Linked DNA regions of Homo sapiens. The protein of the gene in region 1 interacts with the protein of each later gene in a biochemical or structural test. Each region holds a gene or a part of one and is shown in the gene's direction. Other genes may lie near its edges. The genes, in order: ZP4 and ACR.

Region 1 (7,138 bases):
CCATACCCTTAAGAGTGCATTCCAATGAATCAACAGCAGCTGTTCCTTAGTCCCCTGCCCACCAAACTATGCTTGAAGACCCCCTAACCTCCAAGCCTTCAGAGACTGATTTGAGTCATAACTGTCTCCCATGTGGCTGGCCTCACATCAATGATATTCTTTCCTCATCAGAATGTCAGGGTCTCAGTGAATTGATCTTGCCTGTGCAGCAAGTAAGACAAACCCATCAGGCAATTACATTAGTTACATTTGAGGGGGACCAAAAAACTCTACATGGATTTTTGGCTGCATGCGGGGTTGGCACCCCTAGCCCCCACATTGTTCAAGGGTCAACCATACTGACATCCCTCTCAAAGTCCGACTACCCATTCAGTAGGGTATCCTCCTGCCTGTGAAAGGGAATGATAATTTTCCACCCATCATGGCAAAGGAAGGTGTGGAGCAGGGAGGGGAGAGACATCAGAACAGAGCAGGTGCTGTGCAGTCAGCACAGGAGACACTTCAGAGACAGGTCTTGTACCTTGGACACAAAAGAGGCGTTGAAACAAGAGACCCAGTAATGGAAGCCATCGCAACTGACTCTGAATTACACTTCATTCTTGCTTGTTGAAAAGGAAAACCATGTAAGTACTTACAGTAAATTAAGTTTGACATCTTCCTTCAGAAGAGAAGTGTCCTAATTTCCACCACATGCAGAGAGCAGCTGGATGCACCATCCTTGCTCCCTAATTACTGATTAACACAACAATGGTCTAATCATCCCTCCATATTTGAGGGATAATTTTGATTATTGCTTCTCCACACTTGAAGTGGGCTTCCTGGGGCCTTGTTTGAGTGGTACTTCACTCTCCAGTTAGGAGGACCCTGCTCCAGTCACAGCGGGGCAATCACTGTTAATGTCAGATGAGGAGTCTGTACTCAATGGCCAGAAAGCATTGTACTACAGCTCCATGCTATCCAAACCTTGTGGGGTGATGTCCCTATTCTGCAGTTTAAAATGAAACACTCAAATGTAAATATGACCAGATTGAAGAAGGTTTTTGGAAATCACCGTTTGCCTTTCCCCAATCACACAGGTTGCCCTCATGACCTGAGTGGCCAGATCACTGAATGAGGAATGGGCAGCTTCAGTGAATGAGGAATGGGCAGCTTAGCTTCAGTGCAGGACTCCCAAGTACTTTGGTAAGGAACACAAGGGGAATCCTTAAGCCCGCCTATAAAATGTGGGTTGCATGAATACTACCATGACTATGGGGCTTTTGATAAGTCTGTACACATTAGGATGCCTCATAATCTGTTCGTAATGGCTCTGAAACAATTTTTAAATGACTGGGTGATTCTGACATAAGACAAAGAACAGCATTTGCCCTTTCACATTCAAAGGACAGAGCATTCATGTTGTGATAATAGTGGATAGGATGTTTTTTCTGTTAAGCCTGGGGCTCCTCGAGGTGGATCACACATTATCAGTGCATTTTCTCATCCCGAAATTAAATGATGATGTTCTTGGAAGATTCAGCAGAGGAATGAGCATAACATTACCTAACCCCAGACCTGCCTGCATTATCTTGGCATCCATCTTTGACCCTCTGCAGCATCAGAGAGATGGGTGTGATCCTAGGTGGACTTCAAGATAGCTCCACATAGTTCCAGGCTTGTGTGATTTTTCAACTTCATTATGTAAACACAGGACCTCATTTGGGAATGCAGCCTCATGAGTATAGGCTGTTCCTCAGACTCCCTGCAGATCCAATGAGTGCACTGCTTGGCATTTGCTTTCCATTTGCCACCCATCTCACCTTTATCTCCCAGGCTGGTCCTGTTGATGTTAGTGACAATGTAGCAATTATGCAACAAGCATTGTACATACATTATTTCATCTAACCGTCTGTTGTAATAATACTGTCCATGTTATTATCCCTATTTTACAGATATAAAAACTGTAACTGAGAGAAAGAGGTTAATACATTGACAGAGGTTGCAGAGTAACAGTCAGAATTTGTACCCAAGTCCACCCATTGTCAAAACTCACATGATATACTATACTATATTGCCTCCAAGTATGAGCAAAGGAAGTTACGCTCCTTGACTTTTCACCACTTTATAAAGCTGTTGGGAACAGGCCCCCCAAAATCTGGCCATAAGCTGGCCCCAAAACTGGCCATAAACAAAATCTCTGCAGCACTGTGACATGTTCGTGATGGTCGTGATGGCCATGATGCCCACGCTGCAAGGTTATGGGTCTACCGGAATAAGGGCAAGGAACCCCAGACCCACCCAGGATGGAAAACCGCTTAAAAGTGTTCTTAAACCACAAATAGCATGAGTGATCTGTGCCTTAAGGACATGCTCCTGCTGCAGATAACTAGCCAGAGCTCATCCCTTTATTTCAGCCCATCCCTTTGTTTCCCATAAGGAAGACTTTTAGTTAATCTATAATCTATAGAAACAATGCTTATCACTGGCTTGCTGTCAGTAAATATGTGGGTAAATCTCTGTTCGAGGCTCTCAGCTCTGAAGGCTGTGAGACCCCTGATTTCCCACTCTACACCTCTATATTTGTGTGTGTGTGTGTGTCTTTATTCCTCTAGCATCCCTGGGTTAGGGTCTCCCCGACTGAGCTGGTCTCAGCATAAAGCAATATTAGTAAGTCTAGTCAGGAGACTGGCCTTTTAACTCCTGAGACATCTTGCATGAGTCAAATCCTCAGATTCTTTCTTACATGTGCAATCACATGATATTTACTTGAAGGAAAAATACCTAAGGGTTATGAGTTTGAGCTCATCATAAAGGAAATGAATTTGTACCGGTGAGGTTTGGAAACTACATTTTCAAGGGGGTTAGCCCTAGGACATGGCCACTAATGAAAGCATATTCATTGATTCAGTCTTTACTCAGAGAACACTGAGTACATACATCCAAGGCACGCAGGATGCAGTGACAAATAAAAAAGTCCCTGGCCTCACGTGCTTCTAGTGGCAAACTGAATAAGAAAGAGGTCATTACAATCCAACCTGGCAAATCCTGTGAGTAAATGGCATGTAATAACCCAGTGGTGAGCACCTAATCCAGGTAGACGGTGTCAGGGAAGCCACATCTGTCTTTGAGGGCAGAGTCCAGCTTTCCTTCAATGTCATTTTTCATCATGTGGTTAAAAGGGCCACCAATTTTCCCAGGAAGACACATACTTATTTGTCCTCTGTGATGAGTTGAAGAGAACTAGAGATACCTAGTTACACATTCTCAGTGCTTTGACTACAATTTTTAGTCAACCGAAAAATATCAGTCTAAATACAATCAGGGTACAATTTGGGAATATTGGTGGCAGACTGCAGAAGACAAGTTTCCATGCTCTTGCCTCTCCAGTGGGGAATGTATCCATTTATCCCCAAATCTCTTAGAATTTCTCTACAATCTGGTCTGACACTCTAGCTTAAAGAGTGACCAAAGTATATAACTTGTAGTTTATGTGGAAAACAAAAATGTAGAAAGCAAGCAAGAAACCCTGACATCTTTATGAAATATGCCTGAAACACAGCCGAAAGATAAAATTGTCAAATAGCTGTAAGAGGCAGAACCAGTTTGAGGAATTCATGGCCTAATCCACATTTCCCCCAGATCCTGTGGGGAAACACTGTAGGACAGTTATGGCAATGAACCACTTTGGAATTTGTTGAAAGATTGCTGTGGTAGGATTCCCTCTAAGGACCAGGAAAGGGTTCAAAATCAACCTTTCTCAGGAAATAAGTTTAGATTTTTTTCTAGAATTTCAAGACAGGCTCTAATCGTACAGAAACTTTTCTAGAATGGATGGAGAAGGTGACAAGGCTTCTCAAGGGCCCCAACTCTCACCCGACAATGTTGACTGAGCACTCACTGCTTGGCCAAGCACTGTGCCAGGCACCTGACATAGAATCTCTTGCTTAATCCTCAAGCACACCACTGCCAGGAGATAGCATTCCCATTTTACAGATGAGAAAACCAAGATTCAGAGAGTTTGTAACGTACCCAGACCCCATAGTTCATAGATGGTAGTTTCACACCCAAATGTGCAAAATTCTAGAGGGAGGTCTTCTGAAGTCAATAAGTTCAATAAACTGGTGGGACAAATGCTATGTTGAGCAACCCTGAGGAAGCTTTCTTTCCTTCCTTTCTGTTAGCTAAAAGTTACTACATTTTTCTTGGGCTCTGAAGTCTGCCTGGATTGTGGTATTTAATGTGAGGCAGCTGCAGACTGTGCCCCAAAGCAAATGAGGCTAGAGGAATTCCCCTTTCTGAAGGCATCCCACCTGAGTGTCACAAAGATGTGCAGCTGAAAACAAGCCTGACTTCTGTATATAAAGGAATCTGGGCAGGCAGACCCTCGGCTCTTGGGAGAGGAGGCGGAGAGTCTGCAGCCGGCAGGAACTCCTGGTAGCATTATGTGGCTGCTGCGGTGCGTTTTGCTGTGTGTTTCATTATCTCTTGCTGTGAGTGGCCAGCATAAGCCTGAGGCACCAGATTATTCCAGTGTGCTCCACTGTGGGCCGTGGAGCTTCCAGTTTGCTGTAAACCTCAACCAGGAGGCAACGTCTCCTCCTGTACTAATAGCTTGGGGTAAGTTTGATGACTTGCCTTGCTTAGCCAAGCAATGATATGTCTCCTCTACTACCTAAGATGTCTCCCTATCTTCCCGTATTGATACTTTCACCTTCTGAGCCCTGTTGCATCTTTCTGCAAAAGAAATAGTCTAAGTTATAACTACATCTGATCTGAATCTGATTTCCCTCTTGTTCCTCTTATTGACAGTTGCTCCTTGGGGTCTAATGGCAAGGCTGACTATCCTTTCTGGCACTGGAGACTGACCGCTGTGTTTTCTCACCTCTTCCCCACCCCTCCAGACAACCAAGGGCTGCTGCACGAGCTGCAGAATGACTCCGACTGTGGCACCTGGATAAGAAAAGGTCCAGGCAGCTCCGTGGTGTTGGAGGCAACCTATAGCAGCTGCTATGTCACTGAGTGGGTGAGTATGACCCAATGGCCAGGGAGACTGTGTGAAGCGCCTCATGCTACCATCCAGGCTGACCCCCAAGGGCCTGTCTCTCCAGGACTCCCACTACATCATGCCAGTTGGAGTTGAAGGAGCAGGCGCGGCTGAACACAAGGTGGTTACAGAGAGGAAGCTGCTCAAGTGTCCTATGGATCTTCTAGGTAAAGGCTGGAAGCTCTCAGGGTCTTGTGGGGGTGGTGGGGGTGGGGTGTGAAAGTACTCTTGGTCCTCTCTGACCTGCTCTGTGCAGTGACACCTGACACTAATGAAGGAAGGATCATGTCCCAACTCTCACCTCCATGGGCAATCCTTAGGATAACTACCAATTGAGACTCCTCAATGCCAAGGCACTGTGGGTAAGCACTTCAGGTGTTACCTTCCCTAACCCTAACATAGTGCTGCAAATACTACTGCTGGCCAGGCACAGTGGCTCACACCTGTAATCACAGCACTTTGGGAGGCTGAGGCAGGTGGATCAGGTCGGGAGTTGGAGTCCAGCCTGACCAACATGGAGAAACCCCATCTCTACTAAAAACACACAATCAGCCGGGTGTGGTGGTACATGCCTGTAATCCCAGCTACTCGGGAGGCTGAGGCAGGAGAATCGCTTGAACCTGGGAGGCTGAGGTTGTGGTGAGCTGAGATCGTGCCCTTGCACTACAGCCTGGGCAACAAGAGCGAAACCCTGTCTCAAAAAAAAAAAAAAAAAAAATACAACCTATCTCTTGCCAGGAAGTTTTCCCAAGGGCCTATCACTGGTGAATGACTGAGCTGGGATTCAAAGAACTCTCCCAGAACCAGGAGCTTTTCACCCATGGGGAGAATGATAGGAAATAAAACTGAAGCTAGCAAGGGAACTTGGAAAAATACCTCCACAGAGCTAGATGTGCACTGAGACTAGGACCCAGGTCTTCCATCCCACAAGCTGGAGGGGTATCTGAGCATTTCCCTAAGGAAACAGCAGGAAGTATGATGCCTACTCAACTTTAGAAAGTCTCGCCTGACTGAGAGCCCGTCCTCAAAGTCAGAACAGACTCAAACTATAAATTCACTCTTCTCACCTGCCTTCCTTCCCAATACATAGCCAGGATGGGCAGCACTAATAAAATGAGGAATCATAGGCCCCACCCCAGTTCTGAACCAGACCTGAACTCAAAAACAATCTTCAGATAACTCATATCCAAACTAAGGCTTGAGAAACGCCTCTAAAGAACAGAAGGAAGGATTGTTACTGGAAGGAGTAAGAAACCCCCCAACTGCTTCTACCAATTTTGTTGACATTCTTGTTTTTAAAAAACTAATAGCAGGGCACTCTTACAAGGTGACTTAATGTTGACAACCTCCCAAGACTTAATCTACAACATGTAACCTCTCAATACTATCTACAATATGGAGTAGACACCTATTTCAATCATCTACATATCTACAGGAATCCAAAGTCAATGACTTGTATCAAAATGGTATTCAAGACTAACTTTTCCATTATCTAACCTGACTTACTCTTTTTCAAAACCTAGCCCGAGATGCTCCAGATACTGACTGGTGTGACTCCATCCCAGCACGGGACAGACTGCCATGTGCACCTTCACCCATCTCTCGAGGAGACTGTGAAGGGCTAGGCTGTTGTTATAGCTCTGAAGAGGTGAATTCCTGCTACTATGGAAACACTGGTGAGTAAGTGAGCACACCTCTGAAACCAGCTGAGGAAGTGTGGCAATTACAATGAAACCCAGAGAGGGGTTTGCTCAGAAGGCAAACATCAAGTGATAGCAGGCTGCCATGTAGCCATGCATCCAAGAACACTTGATCCCAATGTAACAGACTTCTACAACTCCCACTGTCCATTCTCCCAGAATCCAGATATAAAGTCAATAACGCTCAGACTTGAAGGCTATGTGCCAGATAATTGCTAGTGCCAGATAACTTCTAACTGACAGAAACTTATAGCGACTTTGGCTGATGGTCTTGGATTGTTTAGGGAGAGTCACTTCAAGGCTGTTGCTTTCTGCTTGTCTCTAATCCTGCTCTGAGGTTTTCTAACATAAACTTGACCTCAGAGTATGTATAGGTTGGTACAGGAGGAATCCCGGCTTTTGCCATTGTGGCAAA
Region 2 (4,928 bases), on another chromosome or scaffold:
GGTGCATCTCAATCTCTTTTTTTCTTGATAATGGATAATGAGGCTTCTTAATTCAAGGCAATTCAGTCATATGAGTCTAAAACGCAGCCTTTTTTGGGTAACAACAACAAAAAGTCAATAATTTGAGGATTCTTCCTTTAACTCTTATTTCCTTCTCTGAGGGCGTGGTCTAAGTTTCTGACAGGTTTGTCACCTCTCCTGTCCCTCAGGGAAGGGAGTCTCATCCCAGCTGTCCTTGTTCTCACTGGCCTCACTTGACACGTGGCCATCCCCTTCTGGCCTGGAGTGACAGCCTCTATTCCAGCTGCCGATACCCATGGCTCTGCCCTGGCCTCTGTCCAGCCCCCTAGCCTGCCATGCTCTGTCCCCTGTCTGATGATGTCCACAGCTCTTGGGGGTCCCTATGTTCCTGGGAGGCTGATCTTAGGGTCCCCACTGCCAACCGTTGCTGTCCTATTCTATTACTCAGACAGATTGTAGTGTCCTAGCTATATCTTGGATGCCATGCAAAACCTTTTTTGTTCTGGAATTCCCATAAACCTAATAGGATCACTCTGTTTCTGTTTGGGGTTTTTTTGTTTTTCATTTTTGCAAACACATCCTGTACCCATAAGCCCAAGTCTTAAAGAAACCCCCAGGCTCCAACTCCTGTGATCCCTTCAAACCTTCCATGTCTTACCACCTCCTTCAACTCATCTGCTTTGGGGCTGGAAGGGTATTGCTTGGGTATTGCTTCTTTCCCATTGGGTTTTGAGTCCCTGCAGACTTTTAAGCATTTGTTATTTAAAGCCCAGGTGTCGGCTGGGTGCAGTTGCTCATTCCTGTAATTTACCCAGCACTTTGGGAGGCCGAGGCAGGTGGATCACCTGAGGTCAGGAGTTTGAGACCAGCCTGGCCAACATGGTGAAACCCAATCTCTACTAAAAATATAAAACATTAGCAGGGTGTGGTGGTGGATGCCTGTTGTCCCAGCTACTCGGGAGGCTGAGGCAGGAGAATCACTTGAACCCGGGAGGTGAAGGTTGCAGTGAGCCAAGATCACGCCACTGCACTCCAGCCTGGGTAACAAGAGCGAAACTTCATCTCAAAAAAAACCCGCCAAGGTGTTGGGATTTAGAAAACCCTTTTCTGTTTGAGGACACCTGGCTCTTCACAATAAAACCCATGGCTTTCAAGACTATGGGCTCTGCCCTAGACTTAAAAAGTCATCTTGGCCGGGCGCGGTGGCTCACTCCTGTAATCCCAGCACTTTGGGAGGCCAAGGAGGGTGGATCACAAGGTCGTGAGATCGAGACCATCCTGGCTAACACGGTGAAACCTCATTTCTACTAAAAATACAGAAAATTAGCCGGGCATGGTGGCGGGCGCCTGTAGTCCCAGCTACTCGGGAGGCTGAGGCAGGAGAATGGCGTGAACCCAGGAGGCGGAGCTTGCAGTGAGCCGAGATGGCGCCACCGCACTCCAGCCTGGGCGACAGAGCAAGACTCCGTCTCAAAAAAAAAAAAAAAAAAAATCGTCTTAATGGCTAATAAGCCAGGATTGTTGTCATTGTTGTTTCAATGTCACCCCTACCCCAAGGGCAGTGCATGTACAAAACTCTCACTGCTGCTTGGATGGTAAGAAAAGGTGGGGGCTAAGGGGATTAAAAAACGGAAAGCCAGCGAGCACTCGTTCAGCAGCCGCTTACCAGACGCCTGCTGTGTGCCGAGCCCTATGCACGTCACTCGTGTGTCCCCTGTCTCCCGTCCTGGCCTGTGCAGCTATGTTCTGGGTCTGCCCCTACCTCAGTCTGCTCCCATCTGCTCTGCAGGTGACGTCCAGATCCACCCCCAGGGTTGTAGGTGCTGCTGCGGTGGGGGCCAGAGTGGCTGCTGCTGTTGGGGACCCTTCTGTCTGTGGGACCCCTTGAAAAGGAGCAACGCTGGCGCATGCGCCGTAGCATCGGGTCTTTCTAACCCAAAGGTCACGGTAGAGAGTCCAGCGCTTTCTTTCTTTTTTTGTTTGAGACGGAGTCTCGCTCTGTGGCCCGGGCTGGAGTGCAGTGGCGCCATCTCGGCTCACTGCAAGCTCCGCCTCCCGGGTTCACGCCATTCTCCTGCCTCAGCCTCCCGAGTAGCTGGGACTACAGGCGCCCGCCACCATGCCTGGCTAATTTTTTGTATTTTTAGTAGAGACGGGGTTTCACCGTGTTAGCCAGGATGGTCTCGAACTCCTGACCTCGTGATCCGCCCGCCTCGGCCTCCCAAAGTGCTGGGATGACAGGCGTGAGCCACCGCGCCCAGCCAAGTCCAGGGCTTTCAAGGAAGTCCGCATCGGGGTTGTTTCAACCGCCCCTGCCCCTGCCAGGTCTGCCCGTGTGTGGAGGCGCTGCCCCGAGCTTCCCCTGCGGTCTCCTCGGAACAGATATGCAGCATATGGGGAGGGACTTATTGACCCAGCTGCAGCAGATCCCGTCCGCAGCTGAGCCGAGGAGTTCTGAAGAGGGACAAGAAGCAGGGGGAGTGGCTTACAGCCAGACTGTGGGAGTGGACAGTGTGTCTCAGACTGGAGTCTGGAGAGGAGCAGTCCTGAGGCCAGGCTGCAGCCCCACCACCTCTCTACTGTGACCTGGGTGGGCGGTGCTCCAGCCTTCTGATCCAAAATGGGAATAACGGGACCATGTGACTCAGGGAGTGCTTGGTGCACACTAGGTGTTATTGGTAATACTGCAACTAACCTCCATAATCCATCGTTAATACGCACACCCACCCCCCATCCACCTGTCCACGGGCCTCCACCCTTCCTTCCTCTCTTCCTCTCTCCTCTGGCCTTGATTTGGATAACATTTCCCCACCTCCTCCCACCACCTCTAGTCTGCTCTTTCTGGTGTATAAGGAGGGGTCGGGGCATCGACTGGATGGGTCTGAGGTTTAACTGGAGCATCACAGAGGATGGGGTTCGGTGGGGCAAGGAGGCAGGGCTTTTGTCCGTGTCTCCCGTGATCACTGACCACCGAGTGGTCTGACTATAGCCCCCAGGCCATCATCTATACTGATGGAGGCACGTGTGGATCTCATCGACCTGGACTTGTGTAACTCGACCCAGTGGTACAATGGGCGCGTTCAGCCAACCAATGTGTGCGCGGGGTATCCTGTAGGCAAGATCGACACCTGCCAGGTAACCTTCCTTCTGGCTTCTGGGCCCCTGGGTCCCTCCAGGACTCTCCCGGCCCCTGAGAACATCCTCCTTTTGGATCCCCAAGCTCCACTATCTCCACTGCTCTGCCCAGGGCCCTTCTCTAGTGACTGCTTCCCCGGTCCCTTTTCTAGCACCTACTCTCACAGTGGGGATGAGCGGTGACAGCCACCGGCTGCCCCTGCCATGTGCCCCTGTGGACACGTGGGTTTGCTCATCTCACTGCAAGGAAAGCCCTGACAATTCACACCCTCCTCACATCCCAAATGAAGCCCCTGACACCCCCTCAAACTTTACTACAACCACTTGTGTTTACAGCAGCAGGAGACCATGTCACTGTGGAAATTGTCCTCCCAGAGCCTTCCGACCCCTCTGGGCAGGGGAAGAGTGGCTCAGGCAGATAGTGACCTCTGTGTCCTTCTGGACAGGGAGACAGCGGCGGGCCTCTCATGTGCAAAGACAGCAAGGAAAGCGCCTATGTGGTCGTGGGAATCACAAGCTGGGGGGTAGGCTGTGCCCGTGCCAAGCGCCCCGGAATCTACACGGCCACCTGGCCCTATCTGAACTGGATCGCCTCCAAGATTGGTTCTAACGCTTTGCGTATGATTCAATCGGCCACCCCTCCACCTCCCACCACTCGACCGCCCCCGATTCGACCCCCCTTCTCCCACCCTATCTCTGCTCACCTTCCTTGGTATTTCCAACCGCCCCCTCGACCACTTCCACCCCGACCACCGGCAGCCCAGCCCCGACCCCCACCTTCACCCCCGCCCCCACCCCCACCTCCAGCCTCACCTTTACCCCCACCCCCACCCCCACCCCCACCTACACCCTCATCTACCACAAAACTTCCCCAAGGACTTTCTTTTGCCAAGCGCCTACAGCAGCTCATAGAGGTCTTGAAGGGGAAGACCTATTCCGACGGAAAGAACCATTATGACATGGAGACCACAGAGCTCCCAGAACTGACCTCGACCTCCTGATCTGACCTGGTTCTCAACAGACCCAGTGAGCCCTTCACTCCTGAGAAAAAGGAAAGATGAAATAAATAAATAAACATATATATATAGATATACACACACACATATCTGTATGTATACATGCATATACATCAAGAGATGCTTTCTGGACTTCTTCCTATCCCCCCTCCCAACCCAAATTTCCCCTATAAAATCTACCCTCTCTCCTTCACCCTACAATAAGGCGGAATTGCTTGTACATTAGTGCCAATCGTGTTTTTTAAAATCTTGATTTTTAATGCTGGAATAAGGTGACCTGGGGCCGTAGACCGGGGATGGTCTTTATTTCACACTTAGGGAGAAACGACAAATGGTGAAAATAAAAGAGCCATCTCTGCATGTGCAAGTCAAAGGGGGTGGACCCCCAAAGCAGCAGCTGTGAGTGAGCTGACGGGGAAAGAGGGGGTGTGGGTCCAAGTCTTCTATCAGGAGGCTGGTGGTGTTGACACCCACAGAGAAGATTCTGCATGAAGGTTGAACTCCCCAGAACACAAAGGCTAAGGAGGCCACTAGGCCACCAAAACAAGTGTCTACTACCAAACACAATTTTGCTTGTGGCTTGTTAGTGTCCAGTTGACACCAACAAGCCTGTTCATTACTTGCCTGTAGTTAAATCTTATTAGTTCCTGGATTTGAGCAAATTAAAAAATGTATTCTTTGCTAGAGCTTTCTAGGAATTGCAATGGGGAATACTTTTTGGATGCCCCCGAGTGAGCTTTGAGTGGCTTCCTTAGG

What was found.
Region 2: the proteins of ZP4 (region 1) and ACR form a complex in vitro, tested with the Homo sapiens proteins (one study listed by IntAct).

Annotation. Positions count from the first base shown.
Region 1 is NC_000001.11:237,887,919-237,895,056, reverse strand, and holds the start of ZP4 (zona pellucida sperm-binding protein 4 preproprotein), read left to right. Parts: upstream 1-4,134; 5' UTR 4,135-4,421; coding exon 4,422-4,596; intron 4,597-4,880; coding exon 4,881-5,002; intron 5,003-5,087; coding exon 5,088-5,190; intron 5,191-6,546; coding exon 6,547-6,699; intron 6,700-7,138. UniProt on the Homo sapiens protein: Component of the zona pellucida, an extracellular matrix surrounding oocytes which mediates sperm binding, induction of the acrosome reaction and prevents post-fertilization polyspermy.
Region 2 is NC_000022.11:50,741,051-50,745,978, forward strand, and holds the end of ACR (acrosin precursor), read left to right. Parts: intron 1-3,010; coding exon 3,011-3,156; intron 3,157-3,602; coding exon 3,603-4,157; 3' UTR 4,158-4,289; downstream 4,290-4,928. UniProt on the Homo sapiens protein: Acrosin is the major protease of mammalian spermatozoa. It is a serine protease of trypsin-like cleavage specificity, it is synthesized in a zymogen form, proacrosin and stored in the acrosome.